Regions from separate parts of the Homo sapiens genome. Here regions 1, 3 and 4 are each reported to be linked to region 2. The links are microRNA targets in miRTarBase. Many come from high-throughput screens and were not tested one by one. Region 2 holds a microRNA gene; each other region holds the end of a gene's coding sequence.
What was found. The annotated mature microRNA hsa-miR-1323 reads UCAAAACUGAGGGGCAUUUUCU and lies in region 2 at 1,631-1,652, opposite strand. An mRNA with a match to its seed (bases 2 to 7 or 8) in the 3' UTR can be bound and repressed. Matches are read on the target gene's strand: a 7mer-m8 pairs with bases 2 to 8, a 7mer-A1 pairs with bases 2 to 7 and ends in A, and an 8mer does both.

Region 1 (4,000 bases), not on the chromosome of region 2:
AAAGCACAGATTTATTTTTTTCTTCTTAAAGCAGATGTTTAAACATGGTTTAACAAGGCCCTTCACAACTTAACCCTAGCCTACCTTTCTAGCCTTCTCTTTTGTAACTCTCTACCCAAGACACACTGAAATGTTTCATTTCTCTAAGCATTGCTCTCCCTTGCTTCCAGCCAGACCTTTGCTTTGGAGGATGTGCTAGGATCTTAGTCATAGGACTTGTGCCCATGAGGTTTTTAGCCTAGGCAAGAAGCTGATTTGTGGGCTTGATATTTCATTGAGAACAACTGCTTCTCAGTGTAGGAAATAGTGAAGACTAGGTTGAAAGCACGTGCTCACAACATTTCTGAGACCCCTAGGGTGCCCATGTCCTTGGACAGATGAGTGATTAGGTTTTGGGGATGCTTCAGATACTGAGTCAGGAACTGACTGACAAACTACGTAATTGTTTCCTGCTCAGGTCCGGGCAGCTCCCCCTCCACCTACACAGAATCACCGAAGGCCAGCAGAGAAGATTGAAGATGTGGAAATCACACTGGTGTGATGATGGGCTTGCCCATCCATTACTGCTACAATCAAGGCCAGGCTTGGAGTTTGGCCAGTCTTGTTTTTTAGGCACCTTTGCATGATGATGACTCTTGAACAGAGCAAAAAACAAGGAGGATTATGTGTGACTGGGTGGCCTGGTAGACTCCTCCCACGTTTTGAATATTTCGTGCCTTTTTTTTTTGTTGTCATTTTCTATGTCATTTCTCCTACCATAGCACAAATCCTAGCGGACCCTAGGAGCAAAGAGGGGGGCAGCCCTCATGCCTAACAGTGGTCTGTTTTTATATGAGACTCAAGAACAGGCCTCATTCCAGGGCACAGTCCCTAAATTACTGATCATGTGCACTCGTACAGTATATTACTGTGACCACAAGGATGTGGCAAAGATTCTCATCTTTCTTCAAGTGGCTTTTGCTCATCTGATTGAGAATTAATCAGATCATGTTGGCTACATAAGGAAACAGAAGGAGGGATTTCAGGAGAGGCTGGCTCCTCCCCAAGGTTAGTCCCCAGACTGAGAAAGTGAAACCTTATTGGGAAAAATTGGACTGCCCTGAATTTAGCACCAATTGCATTAACGCACATCTCTTCCACAACTAACAGACTTAAAATAACAGTGTCCTTCGTATTAATATCTGTGCCATTCATTTAGAATTAGCAGAGCTAATATGGAGGGGCTGAACTAGTAGCCACATCTTGTTCATCACATAGACTAATAGAAAGGAGGCTGTGGCTAAAGCAGAAATGGAACTTCCGGATCTGAAATTAGCCAATATAATGTTCTTTTGTATTTGGGTATTTTTCATCTTAATTTTTACAGCATATACTCTTCTTACCAGTATCCTTAGAATCCAAATGTCTAGATAAGTTGAGGACACATACCTGCATTGTTGAGCTTCTCTACTGGGGACGCCCCGGCATTATTTTATTCCCAAGCCAGCAGACCGGCCCAGACAGCCAGGCTGTGGCTGGTCCAGACCAACTGCTATGGTGGAAAATGCAGCTTCCAGGTCCCACTACCCTGACATTTCCGTGGAAGGAAGAACCTGGTGGCTCGTGGAGGAAACCAGCTTTCTATGAGAAAGGACTGAAGGATTGCGCACCCTGCACAAGTACAGATTGACCAGGAAAAGACAAGTGTCTTCTGTGTGTCACAGGGAAAGCCAGGAGTGGCCTTCTCTGCAGGCCAGCAAGCCTGCAGCAGCAGGTGCCCCCACGTCAGGTGCTGACTGTCTGCTGTCCGCTCCTGTAGAAGGTAGGGAGCACAATACCTAGGGACTAAGGGATGTTCGCCGGTTGTGGTTTGTTTTTTTTTTTTTTCCTTGGTTAAGAAATCAAATTTGCAGAATTTAATCTACAAGTTGTATTATGCTTTGAAAACTCCATCCCTCCTAAGAATCTTAAAAAACTTGAAATGCTCGCCAAATGTCCCCATGGGATTTTTGACCAAAAGTAAGGTGATAACTGAAGAAATTTTTAGTTCTTTGATCACTTCAGTGACAATACCCATTAATGAATCTTCTCCATGATTTGGGGTTTTTTTTCGTTGTTGTTTTTTACACTTCTTAACCTGTTGATCTATTTGAGGTCTTTTGTGTTTATCAAACTTATTCTTAAGTTTAAAAAAGAAATTAAAAGGGTGGTTTTTTTAAGATTTTAAAGTTTGCTAACATATTAAAAATCTTCAAATGCTTATTAAATAGAGCAGTTCTTGCCACCCAGTCTTGTATTCTGTCTTTAGCTAGCCAAATTGTCCTTGAATTTGGGTTTTCCACAACCTCAAAGGGTTATTTGAAATCTTTTGTTGTATTTTAAAATATTTTTTGGAAGAGCTGCTAATTTTATTTTAAAAAACAAAGTTGTGAAAACATGCCTCCTTTTTAAAAAATAACCCCTCCATCCAGGATATGGAATCCAGCACCACAGTGCACAGGTCAGGGCTCGGAGGGAGCCTCTGTGCAGATGTGCTTTCTTTACAGTGGCTGTAAAAAGTTTGTATTTATTATGTATAAAATGTTGAATAATAAAAAAAATGGAATTATGTTTTCTAAGTTTTAATATAGAAAGGTTTGGGTAAACAGACCTTTCCAAAAGGCCCATGCTTCTTATAAAAACATTCCTGGGCCCTCCTTTAAACCAGCTAACAGACAGAGAGAGGAGAAAGTAAATTAATCCATCTATGAGACAGACAGTCCCTGAAGCCCCCATGTGCTAGGTGTAATATCCTGGGTACTAGAGATGGCAGTAAATAGGTTACGGTCTTTGCTTTTCCCATGGGAAAAAAAAGAAATACGTGAGGACAGTACTGTGGGACATGTGCTAGAAGGGAGGGGCAGATAGCATAGAGGCAGCTGAGGAGGGAGCTCTGATTCTGCTGCTGGAGGGGTGAGAGGAAGGTCACTGAAGTCCCCTTGCCGGATGTGACCACTGGCTTCCAGGAAGCGGGCATTCTGGATGCCTCTCCCCTTTCCTAAACCTCCACCCTAAGGAGTAATGAATTGTGTGAAAGGAGATTTTCTCGGTCCCAGGGGTGGATGGAGCATTCTTAGTCAAAGGCTGAGTCCCCCTGGCTTCCAGCCAGCCACACTGAGGACCAGGACACAGCCTGTTTGGGGAAGGGCCCCACAAGCTCTCCTCTTTCCTGGAGCTGGGGACATGCAGTAAGCATTTTTCCAGACATTATCCTGTGCATAAGACTCTTAAGTGTACACACTGCTTGTTTACATAAAAATGTGTTCAGCCGGGCGCAGTGGCTCATGCCTGTAATCCCAGCACTTTGGGAGGCCGAGGCGGGCAGATCACTTGAGGTCAGGAGTTTGAGACCAGCCTGACCAACATGGAGAAACCCAGTCTCTACCGAAAATACAAAATTGGCTGGGCATGGTAGCTCATGCCTGTAATCCCAGTTACTCTGGAGGCTGAGGCAGGAGAATCGCTTGAACCTGCGAGGCAGAGGTTGCGGTGAGCTGAGATTGTGCCATTACACTCCAGTCTGGGGAACAAGAGTGAAACTCTGTCTCAAAAAAAAAAAAAAAAAATATGTTCCAGTATAAATGTTGGGTAGATTCCTAAGTGTGGAATTTGAGGGTCAAAAAGGTATGTATTTAATTTTGTTAGATTTTGCCAAATTGGCTTCCTATAAGGACTATATCCATTTACACTCCCACCAACCGCATATGGACTTAGGAGCCAGGAGGTCTGGGTTAAATCCTGGCTCTGCCACTTGACAGCCATGGGGACTGAGCCTGTGTCCTCATCTGGAACCTGAGAATAAGACTGTGGTTCCAGGAAGGCCATATAAAGTGTGCCACAGGCTGGTCACCACGAACTCTTCTCACCACCACCTCTCCTCACCACCACCTCTCCTCACCACCACCTCTCCTGCCTTTTCTCACCACCACCTCTCCTGCCTCTTCTCAGTGTCCTTCCCTCCAGAACTAGGGTCCTTGATAGT
Region 2 (4,349 bases):
GACTCCATCTCAAAAAAAAAAAACTCTCAAATGGTCAGGCAGGATGGCTCAAGCCTGTAGTCCCAGCACTTTGGAAGGTGGAGGCAGGAGGATTGCTTGAGTCCAGGAGTTTGAGACCAACCTGGGCAACATAGTGAGACCCTGTCTAAATACATAGAGAGATAGGCAGGAAACATGGTGAAACTCCATTTCTACTAAAAATACAAAAAATTGGCCAGGGGCAGTGACTCAAGCCTGTAATCCCAGCACTTTGGGAGGCCGAGGCAGGCAGATCACGAGATCAGGAGACCGAGACCACCCTGGCTAACACAGTGAAACCCCGTCTCTACTAAAAATACAAAAAAATTAGCTGGGCGTGGTGGCGGGCACCTGTAGTCCCAGCTAGTCGGGAGGCTGAGGCAGGAGAATGGCATGAATCAAGGAGGCGGAGCTTGCAGTGATCCGAGATCACACCACTGCACTCCAGCCTGGGCAACAGAGCAAGACTCCATCTCAAAAAATAAAAAAAATAAAAAAATAAAAAAAAATTAGCCGGGCATGGTGGTGCACACCTGTAATCCCAGCTACTTGGGAGGCTGAGGCAGGAGAATCACTTGAACCCAGGAGGCAGAGGTTGCAGTGAGCCGAGATTGTGCCACTGCACTCCAGTTTAGGCAACAAGAGCGAAACCCTGTCTCAAAAAAAAAAAAAGAAAGAAAAAAAGAAAATGCTTAGACATTTACATTGAGACTAAGAAAAATGGCTCCCCAGATCCCAACCCAGGTCTATGGCACCAAACAAAATCTGTGGGTGGGCCCCAACAAGCTGCTTCAGCCAAGCTTCTGGGTTTTTGTCATAAATTTAAGAACCTCTGGGAATGGGGGCACGTGCATCTGTAATACCAGCTACTTGGAGGCTGAGGCAGGATGATCACTTGAGCCCAGGAGGTTGAGACTGCAGTGAGCTATAGTCGCACCATTGTACTCAAGGCTGGAAGACAGAACCCCTGGTCCATGATATCCTGGGTAGAAACCAGGACATCTACTAAATAGATGGACTGGTATGGGGGGCAGAAGGGAAAGGAAACCTTCACAGGAAGCACTTTTTTTTTTTTTTGAGTCTCGCTCTGTCACCCAGGTTGCAGTACAGTGCCATTATCTTGGCTCACTGCAACCTCTGCCTCCTGGGTTCAAGCGATGCTCCTGTCTGCACCTCCCAAGTAGCTGGGATTACAGGCACATGCCACCATGTCCAGCTAATTTTTGTATTTTTAGTAGAGACAGGGTTTCAAGTGCCTCGCCTGCCTCCCAAAGTGCTGGGACTACAGGCGCGAGCCACCCCACCCGCCTTAGGAAGCACATACTAAGGAGCCAAGTTAACTGCAATTCCTGGGGTCTCAGAACAATGTTGCATAACAGACATTTTTGCTTTGCATTAGAGGGATTTTTGCCTAGGAGAGCGCTTAGAAAATGGAATGCATTCAACGTGAGAAAGCTGATTGCAGTGGAGAGAAAAAGAAACAATAGAAAAGCAAAGGCCAGTCCACTGGGTGCATCCATGTGGTGCAATGCGATGGGGGACTGGGGATGGGTTATGATGAGGATTCACAATTGACATCCCCAAAACTGGGTGCACTTTCCTTTCAAACCACAGAAAATGCCCCTCAGTTTTGAGGACCTCAGTCTGAATGTCATGTCTGACTTCAAACTCTTCCTACGTGGTTAACTCACACTAGGGTTCGCTGTCCTCACACTGCAGATGGAGGACGTTCACACAGCACTCATGCAGAAGCTCCCAGCCAGATCTTGAAAAAAAATAACCTCAAAGAATCCTCAGGCTGCCCAGGGAGTTGCTAGGAAAAGGCAGACACACCAGCATTTACACAAATTCAGTTACATCACTAGTGGTAGGTTTCACATAAAAACCTTTGATTTATGAGAAGGCTATGCACATGTTACACATCCAGTCAGAACCAATCATGCACTCTAATCATACACTTTAATTTCAAATTTTTTTTTTTTTTTGAGACAGAGTTTCACTCTTGTTGCCCAGGCTGGAGTGCAGCGGTGCGATCTCAGCTCACTGCAACCTCTGCACCCCATGTTCAAGCCATTCTCCTCGTCTACTCAGTCTCCTGAGTAGCTGGGACTTCAGGGGCCCGCCACTATGCCAGGCTAATTTTTGTATTTTTAGTGGAGATGGGGTTTCACCATATTGGCCAGGCTGCTCTCGAACTCCTGACCTTGTGATCCGCCCGCCTCAGCCTCCCAAAGTGCTAGAATTACAGGCAGGAGCCACGGCACCCGGCCGTTTTTGGTTTTAAATTTCTCAGCATTACCTGTGAAAGAATCCAAGTGTACATTTCCACAGTCCTGTCTATGAACACAGAAGAAGGAGTGATTGGCAGCAAACTGATGCTTCAATGCCATGATAGGAGCAAGTGGGCTTCAAAACTATCCTAATACCTGTCCTTTTTTTTTTTGAGACAGAGTCTCGCTCTGTCGCCCAGGGTGAAGTGCAGTGGCACGATCTCGGCTCACTACAAGCTCCGCCTCCTGGGTTCATGCCATTCTCCTGCCTCAGCCTCCCCAGCAGCTGGGACTACAGGCGCCTGCCACCACGCCCGGCTAATTTTTTTGTATTTTTTTAGTAGAGACGGGGTTTCACCGTGTTAGCCAGGATGATCCACCCGCCTCAGCCTCCCAAAGTGCTGGGATTACAGGCGTGAGCCACCACGCCCGACCAATATCTGTCTTCTTGATGCAAATCCAAGTTTAGCATCCTCATTTGGGCATTCATTTGTTAATCTATTCTGCAGTCTTCTGATCTACCTCTTATGCTACTCTTCTTTGCAATTTTACTGTAAGGCAAGAAATTCCTAGTCTTCAGTAACCTGGAGTTAAGATACCAGTCCCCATCAGTTACAATCAAGGACTCACCTCAGCACTGAAAATGCCTGGGTCCCACACGTCACAGGCAATGTGCCAGTATGTTCTTATCAGACTCCAGAAAGCACTCCCAGATTGCATGTCACCAAGGAGACAGTGATCACAAGCCCCAGGGAAAACCTGCAAGGTAGCATAGAACCCATGTCCCTCCACAGGCAGTCCTCCTACAGCTCAACAGAAGACAGTGTTGGAATGTGTTGAATTCTGACATTCTGTTCTACCACCTCACGGGGACAGCGCCTGTAAAAGCCTTTGGGAGAGTGTGGCTGGGAAATGGGCACATTACTTCTCAGTGCACATCCAGCAAGTGATCCTCCATGTGTCAAAAAATCTTATGCTTGCTGGGCGCGGTGGCTCACACCTGTAATCCCAGCACTTTGGGAGACTGAGGTGGGAGGATCAACTGAGGTCAGGAGTTTAAGACCAGCCTGGCCAGCATGGTGGCACCCCATCTCCACTAAAAACACAAAACATAAGCCAGGCACGGCTGTAATCTCAGCTACTTGGGCGGCTGATGCAGGAGAATTGCTTGAACCCGGGAGGCAGAGGTTGCAGTGAGCTGAGATCACTGCACTGCACTCCAGGCTGGGCAATAGAGTGGGATCCTGTCTCAAAAAAAAAAAAAGAAAAATAAGGCCGGGCGCGGTGGCTCACGCCTGTAATCCCAGCACTTTGGGAATCCGAGGCGGGCAGATCACAAGGTCGGGAGTTTGAGACCAGCCTGGCCAACATAGTGAAACTCTGTCTCTACTAAAAATGCAGAAAACAGGCTGGGTGCGGTGGCTCACGCCTGTAATCCTAGCACTTTGTGAGGCCGAGACGGGCGGATCACCTGAGGTTGGGAGTTGGAGACCAGTCTGACCAACATGGAGAAACCCCGTCTCTACTAAAAATACAAAATTAGCTGGGCGTGGTGGCGCATGCCAGTAATCCCAGCTACTCCGGAGGCTGAGGCAGGAGAATGGCTTGAACCCGGGAGGCAGAGGTTGCTGTGAGCCGAGATCGTGCCATTGCACTCTAGCCTGGGCAACAAGAGTGAAACTCCATCTCAGAAAATAAAAAGAAAAATAGTGATCTCAGGTGATCCATCCACCTCAGCCTCCCAAAGTGCTGGGATTACAGGCGTGAGCCACCGCGCCCGGCCTCAGCTTGCTTCTTTCATTGTGTTGTGACTTGCCTCGAAATTCTTTCCAGCAAGAGATCCAAGAACCCGCTTTTGGGGTCTGGATTGGTTGCCTCTTCTCTGGCAATGGTGTGACCCAGGCTATCCCTGAATCCAAGCATTATAGCTGCTACGGAACCCAGCCTCACAACCCAGAGACCCTGGTCATTTCCTTAAAGCTGGGCTGAAGTCCAGTTTATGGCGCAGAACAAGCACCACGGTTTAGCTTTTACCTGCAGTGGCTCCTGGAGCCCCCCGCC
Region 3 (4,000 bases), not on the chromosome of region 2:
GTGGCAGTGTATTTGCTAACTCATATCTTCGGTACATTTGATTTTAATCTAGTATTTTGTTTATATTAAAGTGAAAGGAGATGACCTTCAGGCCATTAAGAAGGAGCTGACCCAGATAAAACAAAAAGTGGATTCTCTCCTGGAAAACCTGGAAAAAATTGAAAAGGAACAGAGCAAACAAGCAGGTAAATGGGTTTTCTGCTTGCCCTTGGTATACAGTTGGGTTAGTTACATAAGGCACTTGAAAGTACATGTTGGAATAGTGGAATATAAAGCAATGTAATATGAAACTTGGGGAGTGTGAATTGGGAAGGGTATTTGTGTGGGAGGATTTAGATTTGTGCTGCAGTTCTGTGATCCTTAGTGGGGATTGTCTACGTCCTGTGGACATTACTGCCCCTAGACAGACTTGTCCTTCTCATCCGCAGTAGAGATGAAGAATGATAAGTCAGAAGAGGAGCAGAGCAGCAGCTCCGTGAAGAAAGATGAGACTAATGTGAAGATGGAGTCTGAGGGGGGTGCAGATGACTCTGCTGAGGAGGGGGACCTACTGGATGATGATGATAATGAAGATCGGGGGGATGACCAGGTGAAAACCACGGGAAAGGAAAGAAAAAGGTGGTGGAGGGGGGCTCAGGGACACATGGAGTGCCTCTAACTCCATCCTGTTTGTGTCTGTTTCTCACAGCTGGAGTTGATCAAGGATGATGAAAAAGAGGCTGAGGAAGGAGAGGATGACAGAGACAGCGCCAATGGCGAGGATGACTCTTAAGCACATAGTGGGGTTTAGAAATCTTATCCCATTATTTCTTTACCTAGGCGCTTGTCTAAGATCAAATTTTTCACCAGATCCTCTCCCCTAGTATCTTCAGCACATGCTCACTGTTCTCCCCATCCTTGTCCTTCCCATGTTCATTAATTCATATTGCCCCGCGCCTAGTCCCATTTTCACTTCCTTTGACGCTCCTAGTAGTTTTGTTAAGTCTTACCCTGTAATTTTTGCTTTTAATTTTGATACCTCTTTATGACTTAACAATAAAAAGGATGTATGGTTTTTATCAACTGTCTCCAAAATAATCTCTTGTTATGCAGGGAGTACAGTTCTTTTCATTCATACATAAGTTCAGTAGTTGCTTCCCTAACTGCAAAGGCAATCTCATTTAGTTGAGTAGCTCTTGAAAGCAGCTTTGAGTTAGAAGTATGTGTGTTACACCCTCACATTAGTGTGCTGTGTGGGGCAGTTCAACACAAATGTAACAATGTATTTTTGTGAATGAGAGTTGGCATGTCAAATGCATCCTCTAGAAAAATAATTAGTGTTATAGTCTTAAGATTTGTTTTCTAAAGTTGATACTGTGGGTTATTTTTGTGAACAGCCTGATGTTTGGGACCTTTTTTCCTCAAAATAAACAAGTCCTTATTAAACCAGGAATTTGGAGAAAAAAAAAACCCTGGTTTTTTATTTTTGTATTTTATTATTGTTTACTTCAAACTTTGTTTTACAGCGTCCTCCACAAAACCTCTAGAATGCACTAGATATATTTTTCTTGGAGTCATAATCATGATGCATACCAACACAACACTACTCAAATTATATTTCATTGAGATGCATGTTGCATTGAGGAGTCAACTTGACATAGAGTGGAGACTTTTTCAAAATGGCTTTTACATCCTAATGAAAGTTTGGGAAGTATATCCTCTCTGCCTTTTCATCAGTGCTTTGTGGTCCAGCTGGCACCCTTTCTGAGGTTTGTGTTTTGTGCTAAATGGTTTTGTCCTTAAATAGGAGAGGCTCAAAAACATCAAGATTTCAGGAAAATGGCGACAGCTGCATAATGGAACCCCCCTGCTTCTATTTTGTTCTTTTAATTACTATTTATAGCCCCAGTTACCTTCTGAATTCTGAAGTGTATATACCTCCATGTTCCTGAAAACAAGAAAACTCTTACTTCCTGATATTCCATAGACTGCCTTCCCAGGTGATTGAGAACATAGAGAATGTTACACATTTATTTTACTCTAAATGATCTTTTACCCCTGTTAGCTAATCTTTGTGTTTTCCTCAACTTTATTAATTACAGTGATTGCATTTTTAGCATCCAGTTGTAAGATGAATATATTAAACAGCTACCAGTGTTGGTGATACCTCATCCTTGAAAGGCTTAGTTCATTTGTGTTTTATACTTCAGTTTTTCCAGCATAGCAGAAAATGCCGCTTATAATTTTTGTGCACACAAACCTTGGATTCCCCTGTAAAGTTGCTATTGTTTCATAGCATGCGGCACTGGCCTTTTTTCATCCTACTCATTACAGGCAAAACTCATGTCTTATTTATGAGGATTTTATAGATCATTTTCTGTAACAGGTGACAAAAGCAGAAAAGAATGAAGAGGCTGAAGTATGAACTACCCTTGGAGCCCATATACATGATATAGGCAATTTCTTTTGTATGTTAATTCAGTCAAAAATACTACCCACTTGATGTTTTCTAATCTGATGTGAGCTCATGTTACACAGACTTTTAGTAAGTAACCCGTGACTAGAAAATAAACTGGATGCTTAGGAGAGAGTGTCAGATGTATAAGATGCTAATAAAACCTGTTTAATATTATTGTTAGCTGTAAGTTTTTGGGAAATACTGAACAAATTAGTCCACAATCAAGTGTCTACTTTTCCCTTCACTGTAGGGCCTCTCCCTGCACAGAGCAGTCTGTTTAGCTGTGAACACCACAATCTGCAGATGTTCAAGTCCCTTACATAAAATGGCATAGTATTTATATGTAACCTATGCATATTCTCCTGTATATTTTAAATCATCTCTACATTAAAATACCTGATAAAATGTAAATGGTATGTAAATAGTTGTAACTTTTTTTATTTATATTTTTGTTAACTTTTTTTAGTTTTTTTTCTTTGCTAGTATTTTCGATCTGTAGTTGGCTGAATCTGCATGTGCAGAACCCATGAACATGGGGGGCCAACTATACATTTTATTCTAGGAAAGCAGGTATTGAATGAAGCTGTGGAGAGCGCTTTTTAATATTAGGTTGGTGCAAAAGTAATTGTGGCTTTTGCCATTACTTTTAATTAGCTGCAGTTACTTTTGCAAATAGCCGTAGAGCATGATCACAGATTGAAAATCTATACACACATATGGTAGGGTTGTTGGAATACTGACATGTCTAGTTTGTGTTGATGGGGAAGTCATTTCACGCTCTTGGTTTTAGGCTACGCTACTGTGGCTTAAATTTCCTCGTGTTTAAGACAACAGTACTCTAGGTTTTCTATAATCACAGGTGTACTCATTGAGTACTTTGACATTTAGGTTCCTAGGCCAAAACTGTAGCAAAGTAAAGAGACCAGGATTGAAATACCACATGGTAAAAGGCTTTTAAAAATCTGATCTAATGCAGATAAGTACAGGCTTTTTGGGAAAGGGGCTAGTGTTTTTAAAGGCCATTTATCAGATGATATGCTTATAGTCAGTGTGACATTACTTAACCCTGGGCCCTGCAAAGTAAGAATTGAGTTGGCTCAATAGAAATTCAGAATAGTAGGCATGGCAGTGCAGGTAAAGGGGTTAGATCTGACGGTAATAATTGAGTGATTTCTGATTTAATAATTGAGGGATTTCAGATTGATAGTCTGATTACACTGCAGTAGTGGAAGTAAGATTTAAAAGTAAAAACATTTTAATTTGGGATAAAATTCAGAACACAAGTTTCTCAATATGCCATGAAATCTAAGAAAATGTCCTGCAATCATTCAAGAATGCAGTTTTCATTTCAGGGTTAGAAAGCAGGAGAGGAGGTAGATAAAAAATCCTTAGTAACATTTTTTTCTGGTGCTGCATAACGTATAATTGGGAAACTTCTTCTAGGGTAATTAATAAATTGCTGCTGTCTCAGTGGGATGAGCTAACTGGAAGCTGTCAGGTGGGAATGGATGCTAAATTTGGGATTCTCAAAAGGAGGGCTCCTCTTGTATTTCACTTCTGATG
Region 4 (4,000 bases), not on the chromosome of region 2:
TCGGCTCCCGGGAGGGCCGGGGCCCCGCCGGCGGCCCCGCGGTGCCGGGTGCATGACGGTACTGTCCCTCTCCCTCCCCCGGTGCAGGCGGCAGACGGCGGAGGAGCGGGAGGCGGAGCGGCAGCAGGCGAGCCGGCTCATGCTGCAGCTGCAACACGACGCCTTCCAAAAGAGCCTCAACGACTCCATCCAGCCTGACCCGCTCTGTCTGCACAACTCGTCACTCTTTGCTCTGCAGAATCTGCAGCCCTGGGAGGAGGATAGTTCCAAGGTTCCCGCTGTCACCTCCCTGGTGTGAGCCCACCAGCGCGCACCGTCGCCACGGATCGCCGCCCCCACCCAGCCGGGCGCCCCGGACCCCCCAGGCGGGCTGCGGGGGAACCGGCGCCGAGAGGGGAAGGGGCCGCCTAGCCCGAGTAGGCCCCAGGGCGCGGCCACAGACTGGCGGGCCGCGGAAGGGGGTAGGGCCCGAGCTCCGCGCGGCCGCACAATCCGAGCCCCCGCCCCGCGCCCCGTCCCGCCCCAGGCCCGGGCCTGACAAGAAAGCGCCTTACGTTTCTCCGCCCCCCGCCCGCACCCCCCGGGCCGGGCGCCTGTATTATACTTTGTACTTTTGCCCAAACGTGTAAATAATAAAAAAGTTTTGGCTTTTTTCTTTAGAAACCGGCCACCTGCTTCCCCCGCGGGGGCCGCTGGAGGAAGGGCAGCCGACCCGGCCGCTGGGGGAAGTGCCAGGGGCCCGGGGCACCCTGCGTTTAGGCTGGGTCCACTCTTCTTCTTTTCCGTTCCTTTTATTTAAGTCTTTTTATTTAATAAAAAAGTTAGCTATTTCACTTAACGCCGCTTTTATTTCGTTTTCGTTCCAATAATGCTCGGCGACCCCCGGCCCTGCGCCCCACCCCTGCGGCGGTAGAAGCCGAGCGGCGGCGCGCAGGGCGCGTCCACTTCCGCAACGTTCGTCTGCATTCGCCTCGGCTGCAACCCCGGCCCGGGCCCCCGAGGAGGATGCGCGGTGCAGGTCAGTTGGTGCCGGCCACCCGCAGCCTGGGTGCGCACGGGATGGGGACTGGACATGGGAAAGGTGCTCCAGGCCCGAAGGCCGCGGGCCAGCGCCGGGGCGGGCTGGGGAGTGAAAGGCTGGGCCTGGGCAGATGCCTAGGCCGTCCCCAGGTCAAATCCACCTGGGGGGTGGGAGGCAGGGTGGCCTCGAACTTCTTAGAGCTCAAGTCGGAACTCGGAGCCCCACTTCACCCCGCAACTCGCTTTCCGCCCTCTTTTTCCCGCGGAGCCTCAGAGAGGACCTGGCTCTGGCCAGTCTGCGCGCGCTGTGGGCAGGCTTTGCGCGCAGAGCCGCTGCAAATCCTCGGTCTCCAAACGCCTGGGGAGCAAATGCAGCGCACAACCCTAGGGGCCCTCTCCTTGTCGGGTTTGCGTGGGACCCCAGGTGGAGCGTGACGTCATGTGACGTCACCGCAGCCCCCGCGGTGTCACTGGGCTGGAGTGGGCGGGGCGCCCGGAACTCAGAACTCTAAGCGCTGGTGTGGTAGCGTCGTGGCCGGGGTCCACCCAGCTCCACCGTGGCTCAAGAGCTGGAAGTTTCAGAATTGCGAGGTTTGGAGCGGCTGACCCCTTCCAGTCACATCTAACACACAAAGCCCGTGAACACTTCCTCTAGTTCTTTGATTTTTCCCCCTCTTTTATCATTCTCGCTTTCAGTCTTCTGAAAACTTACTTTCTGGCCTCTCCGTTTCTTTCTCTACAATGTTCCCTGTTTTCTCCTCTGTATGTTACTCTGGGTCTCTGTTTTACTATATCTTTCTCCTTTTCTTTACAGATTTATGATGTTTCCCAGTATAGTTCGTCCTCTATTGCTTTTCATTGCCCTCAGCCTTTTCTTGTTCCGTCGTCTCCTCCTTCTTCTCTCCCCAGTTCTGACTCTTGGCCTCTGTGTGTCTCTGGGTTTCTTTGTCTCCCTCCTCTCCACGGTCCTCTTGTCCTTTTGTCTTCCCTTTCTTGTTTCTTGAATCTCTTTGCCTTTATGTATCTGTCTTTCTCTCTCTCTCTCTCTCTCTCTCTCTCTCTCTCTCTCTTCTTTCCTTTCTCCCTGACTCCCTCTCTCCCTCTTCCAGGCCCAGCTCCCAGTAGCTCCTAAGGCAAAACACTTTCGGGGCCGCGTCCCAGAGCACCCCTCCCACTCCACGAGCACCCCCACCCGCCTCATCCCACTGCCTCCCTCGGAGCCGGAGCCGTGCGCCACCCTGCAGGTTCCCGTGCTCCGAGCCTTCGTTCTATGCGGGCTGCGGGACTGTATTCACCTGCAGGGCTGGAGGAAGGGGAGGGCGCCTGAGAAACACCTTGAACCCCCAGCGCTCCCGCCGTCACCTCCACCTCCAAGCCCAGCTAGCCTGGGATCTGCGCCTTTCAGGACATAAAGACACCCAGGGAGGGACTAGGGTGACTCAGAACTTCGGGTCTCTTCCGTGAGTGTTTTCCTGAAATGCTTTTATTTTCTCCAATAAAAAGCCTGATGAACGCCGTCATCGGGTTGGGAAAGGTTGGCCCTTCGGCTGAGGACTAGAGGGACCCTTGACTTTGCTGGCGGAGAAGCGCTTTCCTCAGAGACGGGTGTCGCGGTCCAGCTCCCTTCCGTTCCGTTTTATTCTGTTGCTCCATAATAAGGCCTAGCGGGGTTTTTTTTCTTAATTGTTTTTATTTCAACGCGCTTTTGGGGAACAGATGGTCAGGTGGCGTTTGGTTACATGAATAAGTTCTTTAGTGGTGATTTCTGAGATTTTGGGGCGTCCATCACCCGAGCAGTGTACACTCTACTCAATGTGTAGTCTTTTATCCCTCGCCCCTCCACCCTCCCCCACAGGCCCCAAAATCCAACGTATCATTCTTTCTTTCTTTTTTTCTGAGACGGAGTCTCCCTTTGTCGCCAGGCTAGAGTGCAGTGGCGCGATCTCGGCTCACTGCAACCTCCGCCTCCTGGGTTCAAGCGATTCTCCTGCCTCAGCCTCCGGAGTACCTGGGACTACAGGCGCGAGTCACCACGCCTGGCTAATTTTTTATATTTTTAGTAGAGACGGGGTTTCACCATGTTGGCCAAGATGGTCTCCATCTCTTGACCTCGTGATCCGCTCGCCTCGGCCTCCCAAAGTGCTGGGATTACAGGCGTGAGCCCCCGCCCCCGGCCCAACGTATCATTCTTATAAGGCCTAGTATTTTTGTTTTTCAAAATTACTTCTGTTGTTTTGCCAGGGTGACACTCAATTCTTTGGGCCTCTTTGGAGACACACGCACGTTGTTTTTTTTTCTTTCTGTTGGGCGCCTCGCTTTGCGCAGAAGGCCTCTGGCCCGGAGGCCCGTCCGGGGTAGGCGTCCAGGCAGGCCGGGGGTGGGGGGCCGGTCTGGCTTCGGCCCTCGGGGGGCGCCTGGCTTTCCCGCACCTAGTGCCTTCGCGGCGTTTGGCGTCTTCCAGCGCTTTGCCCTCACCCAGCCTTGCCCAGCCAGAGACGGGCTACGGGTCTTTTCCTGTTACAGAGCTGAGCCCACTCATGTGGTGCCAAGTAGCGACTATCTCTCGGCCACCTCCACCCAGAGCAATGTGGGCGCCCCCAGCGGGTGGGAGCGATTGCCGAGCGGCGCAAGGGCGTTTAACGCCTAACCCCCTCCTCCTGGGTTGCCAAGCCGCTAGGTCGCCGTTTCCAACGTGGCTGCGCGGGACTGAAGTCCGACGACTCCTCGTCCTCAGTAGGAGACACACCTCCCACTGCCCCCAGCCACGCGAGCTATGGGCAGAATCGGGGCAACGGTAATATCTGGATGGGGCAGGCTCCCCTGAGGCTGTGCTTAAGAAAAAAGGAATCTGGAGTAGCCTGAGGGGCCCCACGAGGGGGCCTCCTTTGCGATCGTCTCCCAGCCTTAGGCCAAGGCTACGGAGGCAGGCGGCCGAGTGTTGGCGCCCAGCCCGGCCGAGGACTGGATGGAGGACGAGAAG

Region 1: the mRNA of FCHSD2 is a reported target of hsa-miR-1323. Seed matches in the 3' UTR shown: 7mer-A1 at 699-705.
Region 3: the mRNA of HNRNPC is a reported target of hsa-miR-1323. Seed matches in the 3' UTR shown: 7mer-m8 at 972-978.
Region 4: the mRNA of TLX3 is a reported target of hsa-miR-1323. Seed matches in the 3' UTR shown: 7mer-m8 at 640-646.

The regions. Positions count from the first base shown.
Region 1 is chr11:72,835,332-72,839,331 of GRCh38, reverse strand. It overlaps FCHSD2 (FCH and double SH3 domains 2), which reads left to right. Exons shown (of 20, transcript NM_014824.3): 20 at 458-2,587. The coding sequence ends at 541. It also overlaps a transcript of ATG16L2 not described here. Among named protein-coding and RNA genes, the nearest start is that of ATG16L2, 23 kb to the right of the region's middle.
Region 2 is chr19:53,669,281-53,673,629 of GRCh38, reverse strand. It overlaps MIR1323 (microRNA 1323), which reads right to left and starts at 1,662; the gene lies at 1,590-1,662. All of the region lies in intron 2 of LOC107985342 (a long non-coding RNA gene), which reads right to left. RefSeq lists an enhancer at 3,586-4,349.
Region 3 is chr14:21,207,995-21,211,994 of GRCh38, reverse strand. It overlaps HNRNPC (heterogeneous nuclear ribonucleoprotein C), which reads left to right. Exons shown (of 9, transcript NM_004500.4): 7 at 72-185; 8 at 429-589; 9 at 689-2,848. The coding sequence ends at 772. Among named protein-coding and RNA genes, the nearest start is that of LINC00641, 3.1 kb to the right of the region's middle.
Region 4 is chr5:171,311,302-171,315,301 of GRCh38, forward strand. TLX3 (T cell leukemia homeobox 3) reads left to right here. Exons shown (of 3, transcript NM_021025.4): 3 at 88-838. The coding sequence ends at 298. Among named protein-coding and RNA genes, the nearest start is that of TLX3, 4.1 kb to the left of the region's middle. RefSeq lists enhancers at 1-95, 1,866-2,750.